Linked DNA regions of Homo sapiens: region 1 is linked to region 2. Evidence: fine-mapped QTL for protein levels in blood plasma. Region 2 holds a variant in brackets. A gene starts in the other region. All regions are shown on their reverse strands.

Evidence for each region. PIP is the chance, under the fine-mapping model, that this variant and not a neighbour inherited with it causes the effect. Protein levels are from antibody-based Olink assays in UK Biobank. Linkage for the fine-mapping came from a reference panel and not from the study's own genotypes, which makes the PIPs less certain.
Region 1: it holds the start of ADIPOQ, and the variant in region 2 is fine-mapped to the plasma level of the ADIPOQ protein (UK Biobank, PIP above 0.99).

What each region holds. Positions count from the first base shown.
Region 1 is chr3:186,839,861-186,845,236 of GRCh38, reverse strand. It overlaps ADIPOQ (adiponectin, C1Q and collagen domain containing), which reads right to left and starts at 2,527. Exons shown (of 3, transcript NM_004797.4): 1 at 2,488-2,527. RefSeq lists enhancers at 1-2,487, 5,070-5,227, a cis regulatory region at 3,076-3,103 and a promoter at 2,505-3,203.
Region 2 is chr16:82,627,467-82,632,842 of GRCh38, reverse strand. All of the region lies in intron 1 of CDH13 (cadherin 13), which reads right to left. Among named protein-coding and RNA genes, the nearest start is that of CDH13, 3.2 kb to the right of the region's middle. RefSeq lists an enhancer at 2,590-3,789. The variant C/A (reference allele first, on the strand shown) is at 3,160.

The DNA of each region.
Region 1 (5,376 bases), not on the chromosome of region 2:
GGAGAGCTGTCAATATCTCCATGCCCAACACACACACATACCCGCACCCATACACACACCTCCACCTATGCACGCGCACACCCACACACCACATCCACACATCCACATACGTACGCACCACCCCCCCCCACACATACACACCCATCCAAATGAGTGTGCGCGCGCGCACACACACACTCACACACATACATACTGTCAAGGAACTAATAAAACAGAGCATCCCACGCACCACCACATTTTTAGGATAAGTCTCTCTCCACATGATTGAATTTCTGATTGAAATTCCTGATTGAAAGTATCTCTCCAAAAGACATCACCTCTTGACTTTAGCCGTATGTCTGGGACCACCGGTCCACTGGCTTGACAAGGAGTAGGTGGAAAGTTTGTCCCTACAGCCACCTTAAAAAGAGCAAGCATATAATCCCAGCCTTTTGGGAGGCTGAGGTGGGAGGACTGCTGAGCCCAGGAGTTTGAGGCCCCCCAGCCAATATAGTGAGACCTCATCTCTACAAAAAATTTTTAAAAATTAGCCAGGCATGGTTGCACACACCTGTAGTCCCAGCTACTCAGGAGGCTAAGATGGGAGGGTCACTTGAGCCTGGGAAATCGAGGCTGCAGTGAGCTGTGATTGCACCACTGCACTCCAGCCTGGGTGATAGAGTGAGACCCTGTCCCCAAAAAAGACAAGGAGCCAGTCTTGTGTCTATTTTTTTTTTTTTTTTTTTGAGATGGAGTTTTGCTTTTTTTGCCCAGGCTGGAGTGCAATGCTGTGATCTCAGCTTAAGACTCCTCGGCCAGGCGCAGTGGCTCACACCTGTAATACCAGCACTTTGGGAGGCCGAGGCAGGTGGAATATGAGGTCAAGAGATCGAGACCATCCTGGCCAATATGGTGAACCCCATCTCTACTAAAAATATAAAAATTAGCTGGGCGTGGTGGCGCATGCCTGTAGTCTCAGCTACTTGGGAGACTGAGGCAGGAGAATCGCTTGAACCTGGGAGGCGGAGGTTGCAGTGAGCTGAGATTGTGCCAAAAAAAGACTCCTCAAGACTTAAGGAAGAGTGGCAGCAGGGACTGCTGAGGAAGCTGCCGGGCTCCCTGTGTACCACTGGCCTTCATGAACAAAGCTGACACCATCATGCTCCTTCGGACATATTCTGCTAGCATAAAGGGACCCCCATCTCCCCAACCGAATTAGGCAGAGCTGGCCTTCCTTCTAGCGGAGTTCCTAGGAGTGAGTTGGTGCCACCCCTTGTGAGGCTTGATCCAAAAACCAGAACCTCTCCAGACCAGGGATCCATGTCCTCTAACACAAGAGGGGCAGACCTAACCTCTAAAATCCCTCCCACTCTAACCTTCAGCATCCACAGCTCAAAACAACCAGGATGCCTCAGAAACAGCACTCACTGGGGCGAGCAGGATTAGGCTTCAGAAAAACCAGGTAGATCCAGTTTCTTCTGTCAGAAAATGTTTTTTTTTAATTACAATTTTTCATAAGTTGCCACTATATGCCAGGCTTTTCTCATTTTATCTCATTAGAGCCTCTTTTTCTTTTCTTTCTTTTTTTTTTTTTTTTGACACAAAGTCTCGCTCTGTCACCCAGGCTGGAATGCAGTGGCAACAATCTCGGCTCACTGCAACCTCTGCCTCCCAGGTTCAGACAATTCTCCTGCCTCAGCCTCCCGAGAAGCTGGGATTACAGGCACCTGCCATCACGCCCAACTAATTTTTGTATTTTTGGTAGAGGCGGGGTTTCACCATGTTGGTCAGGCTAGTCTGGAACTCCTGACCTCAGGTGATCCACCCGCCTCGGTCTCCCAAATTGCTGGGATTACAGGTGTGAGCCACCATGGCTGGCCTCATTAGAACCTCTTGATTACCTTGTAAGATATCCCTATACCTACATATATCCCCAAATCCATAGACAACAACCATGTCACACTCATTGTATCTTGTGAACCCAATCCACTGTCTAGCCCATAGAATTTGCTCAGTAAATATTTGCTGAGTAGAATAAAGTGGCAGAGCTGGATTCCTAATTCCAGTCTGAAGTCAGTGCTCAGCTTGACTTTTCTGAAGCTGCCTTCATATATGCTTCTTCCTTTGCCCTACCTGGTCAAGCTAAGAGGCAATGTATTCCCTTATCCCCCTTAATCGAATTGGACTTCATCTGTGGACAGACCCTTCCACCTTACTGACCCTAACTTTTTCTCAATAGGTATCCTGCTACAGAGCGAACTGGGCAAAATTCAGAATGGTTCCATGCATCTTAGAAGGAATGTCTGAAATAACCCTTTCTCTCTTGGGGCTGTGGGAGAACGGAGGAAGAAGCCCAGTGCATATCTGCCTCCACCAGTGCTGCTCTGACCAGAGTATCCACCTGTATCCACTCCCACACTACTACGGACGGGAGAGCCTGGGTGATCCCAGCCAGAGGCTATGCATGCATCCCCCACCCAGCCTGGAACTTCACAGAATTGCTCTTACCCTCTGGTATGGAATCAGAACCACAGACTGCAGTCAGAATGGAAGTGAGGAGGAGATGGCCCAGCCTCAACAGCCTGGTACTCACGGGGGCAGGCAGTCCCCACCTCACAATTGTCATTTCCCATTGGCCAACTCAGTGAGGGCCAGAGGCCGGTGGGCAGGCACATGTCCCTGGCAGTTGCCCACAGCCTGCACCCTAGGGAACCTGGTACAACCCAGCTTGGGCTTCGGAAGCCAAGTGGAGCTTCAGTCAAAGCACTTGTGTTTCCAGGCCTTGACCCTTATTTTGCCTCCTACAACAGCAACAGAAGATGGGGCAAAAGTCAAAACCACAGCAGGAAAACAAGATTTTTTTCCTGCATCTGACGGAGAAACTTCCTAATGTAAATGAATTAATTGCTCAGTGGTCCAGGAGGTCTCCCCCTCCCATAGATTTGCCCTAATAAGTCAGGGACGCCAATTATCACACCACAGTCTTGCTCACTGTGCATGATTAAGTCTGAGACTGTGTACGTTCAGACAGTGAGTGCTTCAGAAGGGAGCACTGTCAGAGGGGTCTGCAATCAGGTAAGAAATAGAGCACATCCTCCACTCTCTGACCTGGACCCTGGATTTAGGAAAGACCTTGCACATGAATTCTGAGAACTGGGGTGTGGGGAAGTTCCTGGAGTGGTGTGGGGCTTGGCAAGTTAAAAAGGCCCTGAATTCTTAAAGCTTGTGGCCTCGAATCGTAATTTGAATCTAATATAATAGAAAACTTACATAAAATGTGATATTGGAATACCATCTTTCAAGATTTTTTGGTTCCAAAATTTCGGATAACATTTTGACAGCTACCTTGGTATGTGTGTGTGTGTGTTTGTGAGAGAGAGAGAGCCTGTTTTTCCAGTTCCTTAAGCATATATATGCCTATTCTGTCTCTTGTGGAACCCAGCTCTGGCCTAGAAGCAGCCTGGAGAACTGGAAGCTGCCACCCACTTAGGTGTTCCTAGAAAGTTTAGGCTTGAAGTGGCAACATTCAACACCTTGGACTTTCTTGGCACGCTCATGTTTTGTTTTTGAAGGGCAGGATCTGAGCCGGTTCTTGCAAGCCACACATTCTGATGAATTAAATTACGACCCCAGCAAGGGCTTAGGATGCCAGCACCAACTTCAACAAGACATCCAAAACAGAATTTTCTCAGACAGAGGCAGGGCAAGTGTCTGCCTGCCCCCCAGATATCATCTCCACAGTCCACACAGAGCCTAAAAATCTACCAGTAAAGTCAAGTCCACCATTAAAGTAAAGATCTGATGTAAAGCCTCAGCTTCCTGCTAATGTCCAAATATTTCAAGAGAAGTCACATTAGGCCGTTGAGATGAGAGACATGAGAGACTTTCCAAGGTCCCCCGGCTTAAATAAGTGGCCCATGAAAATGAGGTTCCATATAGTTTAGCAGGCTGATTGAACCAAGAAGACAACAAAAAGAAATAGAAGCAACTCTCAATTATATCACTGTTTGATTTTTGTTATGGTGTTTTCCTATTTATTTTTGGTTTATGTTACTGTCTGTTGCTATTTAATAGAACATAAACTTCAGGTCAGGTGCAGTGGCTCAGGCCTGTAATCCCAGTACTTTGGAAGGCCAAGACAGGCATATCACCTGAGATCAGGAGTTTGAGACCAGTCTGGCCAACATGGTGAAACCCCATCTCTACTAAAAATGCAGAAATAGCCGGGCGTGGTGGCACATACCTGTAGTCCCAGCTACTTGGGAGGCTGAGACAAGAGAATCACTTGAACCCAGGAGGTGGAGGTTGCAGTGAGCCAAGAGCACCATTGCGCTCTAGCCTGGGTGACAAGAGTGAAACTCTGTCTCAAAAAAAAAAAAAAAAGTAAACTTCAGGAGAGCAGAGATTTTGCCTATTCAAAGTTGTATCCCTTAGTTCCTAGAATAGAACCTGGCACAAAGTAGGCAATAATAAATGTTGAATTAATGAATAAATGAATGATCATATTCAACTTTCCTTTGGAGATAACTATTATTGTCTTTCATTTTACAAATAATGAATCTAGAGTTCAATGAGGGTAAATAATTTGTTCAAGGCACAAGTCTAGGATTTGAACCAGATCTGTCTAACTAAAAATCCCTATGCTTTCTAATTCCTCATGCCCTTCACCCCTCTTGATGGAGTGTGAGGCCTCAAGGTTGATGTATGTGCTTCAGGGTAGTTTCAGGGCTGGCATAAAAAGTATTTTCTTTGGCCGGGCACAGTAGCTCATGCCTGTAATCCCAGCATTTTGGGAGGCTGAGGCGGGCAGATCACTTGAGGTCAGGAGTCTGAGACCAGCCTGACGAAGATGGTGAAACCCCGTCTCCACTAAAAATACAAAAAAGTTAGCCGGGCGTGGTGGCAGGCACCTGCAATCCCAGCTACTCGGGGGTCTGAGGGAGGAGAATCGTTTGAACCCAGGAGGCGGAGGTTGCAGCGAGCCGAGATCGCACCATTGCACTCCAGCCTGGGCAACAGAGCGAGAATCCATCTCAAAAAAAAAAAAGTATTTTCTTCTAACTTTATAAGAATGCAGCTGGTTAGAGAAAGCTGTAGCTATTGCACAAGGTGGAATAACTTTAGCCCCACAATCACACCAAGACTGTGCTGGGCCTGGCTGTCAGTCAGTGACATTGTGAAAGCCTAGCATTTTGCGAGGCCTCAGGGCAATCTGCCACCCACCACAAAGGCCGTCATGTGGAAAGAGCCAGTTCTGTGGCATACTGGTTTAAAGACTGTAATTGAAAAACATTCAATCAGAAATGCCTTGAGGCTAGTCTTTTTCCCAGGACAGAACTATTACTACTTAGACCGAAATAACCAAATAAATGCGATCATTTCCTCCAGGGTACCGTA
Region 2 (5,376 bases):
CAAGCTCAGGGCTCCCAGTAATTCTAAATTATAGTGAGTTGTAGAATTATTTCATTATATATTACAATGTAACAATACAGAAATTAAATGCATAATAAATGTAATGTGCTTGAATCATCCCAAAACCATCCCCCCAATTCTAGTCCGTGGAAAAATTGTCTTCCACGAAACCGGTCCCTGGTACCAAAATGGTTGAGGACTGCTGACAGAGAGGGTATGCAGGCCTCTATATGATCCCAGGGTTTCAGAGTCCCTTGGCTGCTGGTGCGTGATGACATTTTGTACCAACACACTGGTGTGCCAGGGCTCGTACTGACTCAGAGCTGCAGCGTGTCACTTCTCTGCATGACTCTTACACCTGAAGCAATGATCTGGGTGCTATGTCTCTCTGGGTGCCTGTCCAAAAGTACTGCCAGTAATGTGCTCAGGGAGGGGCTGCAGTCCCCTTGGTCATGCTGTTCCAAAGCACACATCAATGGAATTCAATCACAGGGAAGGAGAAAAGGCCAGTCCCTCCCTTTCCAAATAGTCCATCACTGAGAAATAAACTGCATCAATTTGATCAAACCTCAACATTTGTGAAAGCAGAGGTCCCAAACTCAAAAAGCCCTAGGGGCAAGCAGGCAAAATTAGTGAGCACAGAAGGCTGGGTAGTAGAGAGTGGTGACGATTATGGCAAGCTACGGAGGCACGTCCTGCCTAAAGAGGGCAGTAGTGACTCAGCCCTGTCAAGTACGGCCATGTTGAAGTGTGGATCTAGGGTTGCCTGACCTGACTTTTTCAGAAATGCTAGAAACCTGGATTTCTTTTTTATTAATGTACAATTTGCAAAACATTTGAGCCAAACAAACTGCATCCATGGCTAAATTTAGCCTGTGGCTGCTACTTGGCAACCTCTGCCCAGAAGCCAGAGTTGCAGGTTTGGGATAGATGAGTTCCATTACCACCAAGCAGATGTCTCGAGGTTCAACTTGCTAAGCCAGAGGGTGACACATTCACCTCCACAGACCCTGGCTCAGTCAGCACTTCAAGTTAGAAATGTCCTTTCTTCTCCTCTCCTGCCTTCCCCCAAGCTGCCTCTCTCAGCAGAGAAAGATGACTTTCCACCCTAACTCTAGAATAAGGCCACTGCTGAGTGCCTACTGCAGGAGCAAGAGATCCTACAGCCCAGCCATTCATTGTCTGTGCAGCCTGTTCATACCTGAGGAGCCAGGCCTGGGATCCCAGGTGGCTGCAGAAGAAGCGGGCTGTGGGGAATTATATTGGCAGCATCCTTCAGGAGGGTCAGATTCTCACAGGTGCATGGGTACCTGGCTGACAGCTAAATAGAAACAATGCCAAAACCACTGGTCACTTGGTTTGATTCTGTCCAGCTGATTATTGTAATTGGATGACAGGGGGATATTTCCTTCTCCTTTTCAATGAGTGATGGAAAGTGAGTGGACCTAGCTCAGGAGTCACCCTTCTGGGTGGTTATGTAAGGGGGAAGGTTATCTCCTTCCACAGGCAGAACTGTTCCTGCCTTTTGGCTACCTAAAGAATGAAATCAAGTCCAACCAAAGTCAAATGCCAGGAAATTTCAGAACTTCCTCACATTGCGTATTGCACCGTCTACAAACATCTTTGAAATTTTCCCTGCTCCAATACTCAGAGGGGATACAGAGTCAAAGAATGAATTAGAACAGAACCAACTACAATAGGGGAAAAGAAAGAAAGCAAGAAGAAAGCTAGCGAGAAAGCAAGAGAGCAAAAGAAGGAAAGCAAGAAAGAGAGAGACACAGAAATAAATACAGTGAAAAATGGCAGGATTTCTCATTTGGGGGTGATTGTGGCAATTAATGTGGAATAAGGAGAATAGTTTTGTTTTGATGGAGTTGCTGCATTGAAGTTCTTTAAAATGAGCTGTAGATTCAGAATTTTGTAATGCTGTGGATGGAGCCCTCTTCTGGAGAAATTTTTCAACAGGTATTACAAGATCAAAATGCAGAGATGTACACACTCACTCAGACGCGCACACAGAAACACTGTTGGCTACGTAGATGATATGACTGTCATTCAGGTGTAAATTAAATCCATAGTTTGTCCTTTTCCTACATTCCACTAAATATAAATTAACTAGACTCCCCAAGCAATTGTATTTTTGGAAGGAAATAAGGATGTTTTCAAGAACCTAGCTACACTTTAACCTAAACATTGAACTTCAGATTGAGGCTCAGTTTACACATCCAAGTGCTGATGCTTTTAGATAATGCAGTTATTGAGTATGTTGGTTTGTTGGGCAATTTCACTATAACACATAGAGGATACTTCTGGAAGTAAACAGATTTTACTTAACGGAAAACCCAAGGGCTAAAGATAGAAAAGGGGAGAAGGGAGGGAGGCAGAGTAGGAGCGATCAGCTAAGATGACTGTTGGGGCTTTTAGTATAGACTGTGGAATTACACAAATTCCAGATTACATACTCAGCTTTGCAGTTTATTAAACCTGTTTTGGGACTTGCTAAAAAAAAATATTCAGACAGGTGAACTCTATCACTGACTCCTTTCACTACATATTCCATTTCCCTAGTGCTCTGGAAATCTTACAGGCTGTCATGTATTGACCCTAGGGGGGGAGGGGGCAGCACCCTCTTCAACCCTGTGTCCTTTTCCTCATCCAAAAAGTTCTGCAAATAAACACTGCTCTTAAAACATAACACACAAATTTGCAGGAGCACTATAAGACACTGATTCTCATTGAAAATCCTGAAAATCAAGACTCTGACCCCTAGAGAGAACTCCCCACTTTATAGCGAAATCTCAGAATTCCATGGAACATTTTCAGTCACTCCCAAGCGACTGTCCTCCAAGCCTGAACCCCTCCCTAAATTCCTAATTCTTGGGGGATTACTCACTCATTGTTAGAACTTTTGGTTAGTTGTAAGTGCTACCCAAATAGGGAGGGGAATCACATTTACCATGGAATTTCTTGCTCATTTCTTTCTTGATTTGTTTCACAGTCATTACTTATCATAGGCAAATTCCAGAAGCCACTTCTGGGACAGACTTTCCCAAAACACCCCAGGGGATAGGAGAGGTGACTGTTCAACGGTGCCAGCTTCCAGTCATTGTTGCTTAGAATTCCTCACCTCCTACCAAAATGCCTAAAACAACAACCAAG[C/A]CAATAAGCTTACAGAGATTGATGGCTTCCAAAGCCAGACCCGATGCTTTACAACTGTGGTGGAAAAAAACATACAGGCTTGCCTGAACACCACCAGGGCCGAGTGACTAATTTGTTTTATTACATTGTTTTTCCCTTCTGTTTTCTCTCTGCCTCAGGAAAGTTGTGTTTTTGCTCGTCGACTCAAGGCCTCGAAGACTTTCCCCACTTTTTTCTATGGCACACAGAGTTCTGCACGTGAACTTCTTGCTGGTTAACTGGATTGCATCAAAATGATTTCTCTGTGAGGTACTATTGCTACCAGGATATCAATTACTATCCTAATGTGGACATTTGCTCTGATATGCATAACAATTGAAAATAGAAATAAGCCTCTCAGGGCAATCATTTCAATTCACAGCAAAATCTCTGCTTCCTTCATCTAAATAAATAGAGTGAGCCTTCAGAACCCACCTGTGCCAGCCTGGCCCTGGGTGAGGAGACACACCAGTTCATTTGCAAAAAGAACCGTGCGCAGAGCCCTTAGTGCATAAAAATCGATCCTGGGGCCCTGTCACGTGGTCTGTCTTGCTTTAAAGGAGGCATAACTTTGGGCAAGCCCTGGAATATGAACTGAGGTTGAAACCTGCCAAGAAAGAAAGAGGACTGTGAAGTCCTGGACAAGGCAATGGTAAGTGCTCTCAGACACCGACAGCTCCCAGACTGGCATGCATTGCATAGGACATCCTGTTGAATGCAATCCTATCCACTCAGCAGTCCTAGGAAGGCAGCAGATTATTTTACAATGGAGAACTTGGAAGCTCAAAGAGGTTAAACAACTTGCCCGGGTTGGTACCACTAGCAGATGGCAGGAAGGATCTGTCTGAATCCTTTCTGTCTGAGGCATGCTCCAAACCGCCTTGCTAAATTGGGGTATATGTACACACATACAGCCTTGGGGTCTCTAGGGTACAGGACATCTGGAAAACTGGTTCACAGCCAGGCTTGGGATCCATGGCAAGACTCAAGGCTGTAGGGACCCCAAGATAATCAACCAGAAAAGCCTGGTAGAAAAGGAGCTATAACTGGGCAGTCCTTAATCGGGACTGTATATCCAAGAAAGAAGTCAGGAGCTTGGGAGCGGGCTCAGCAGCCGGGCACTTGAATCTCCCCTGGTACTATCACCCATCACTGCATTTCTGAGATGTTAGCCCATTTCCAAAGTCTAAACCCAACATTGCTCTAACAGTGGTCTCCCTTAGAAGTCTGCACCAGTCTCCCCATCCCAGACAGTCCCTACCTGGGAACCCAACTCCCTTCCCCTGCCTTTCACCCGCAAACTCTCACCTGAGCCTCTACCCCGGCCAGGAACTCAACACTCATTCCTAGCACCCTGAGGCACTCCCTGTCTCTTTCCCTCCTTACTCTGCCCGGCCCTGCCCTGCCCTGGCTCTTATCCACCCACTTGCAGGCTGCCAGCTCACTCCAAGTCCCAACGCCTGCCAGAGAGGCGATGGGGGACTGGATCGGGGTGCTCTCCGAAACCACAGGCCCCTGAGCAGCGCAGGGCGTGCCCCCCGCAGCGGCCAGCACCCCAGGCCTGGCCTCGGAGCGCTGCTTTCCTGCACTCAAACTTCCCGAAATCTCTGAGGTGCAGAGGTGACTGCAGGCGGACCGCATCTCCCTCGCCCCCTCTCCTGGTTGGCGTGCCCTTCCCTCGCGCCGTGGCGCTCTGAGGGTTAACAAGCAGCTGCAGCCCGGGTGGGCAAGGCTTGAACTTTTCTCTGCGCTCCGCTCCCGCTCAGGGAAGGCAGCAGAGGCGGCAGCCCGGGATCTGGCCGGAGCTCCAGCTGGCTGGACAATAGGGGTGCGGGGGGCTGGGGCCTGCGCCCTGGCGGGGGACACGCTCCGGCCCTTTCGGGCCCGGGGTCTGGGAGCAAAAGGACCCCGATGCGGGTGCGGCCGGCGCCGGCGCCTTTGAGCGACAGCAGCAGCCGGGCTGAGGCTCTCTGCTGCCCCGAGGCGCCTTCCAGCGGGCAGCCGGGCTGTACCAGGGGGCCCGGGCGCCCTGGGAAGTCGGTGGTGCCTGCTCGGCCTCTCCAGCCCCGCATCCCGCAATCCGGACCCGAGCAGCGCTTCGGCCGCTGGGCGTTGGGCTGGGGAAAACCGCGGCTCGTTGGAGTCGCCTCTAACTGAGTCTTTCTCCAATGCACCGAGCCTCCGGAGGAGGGAACCAAA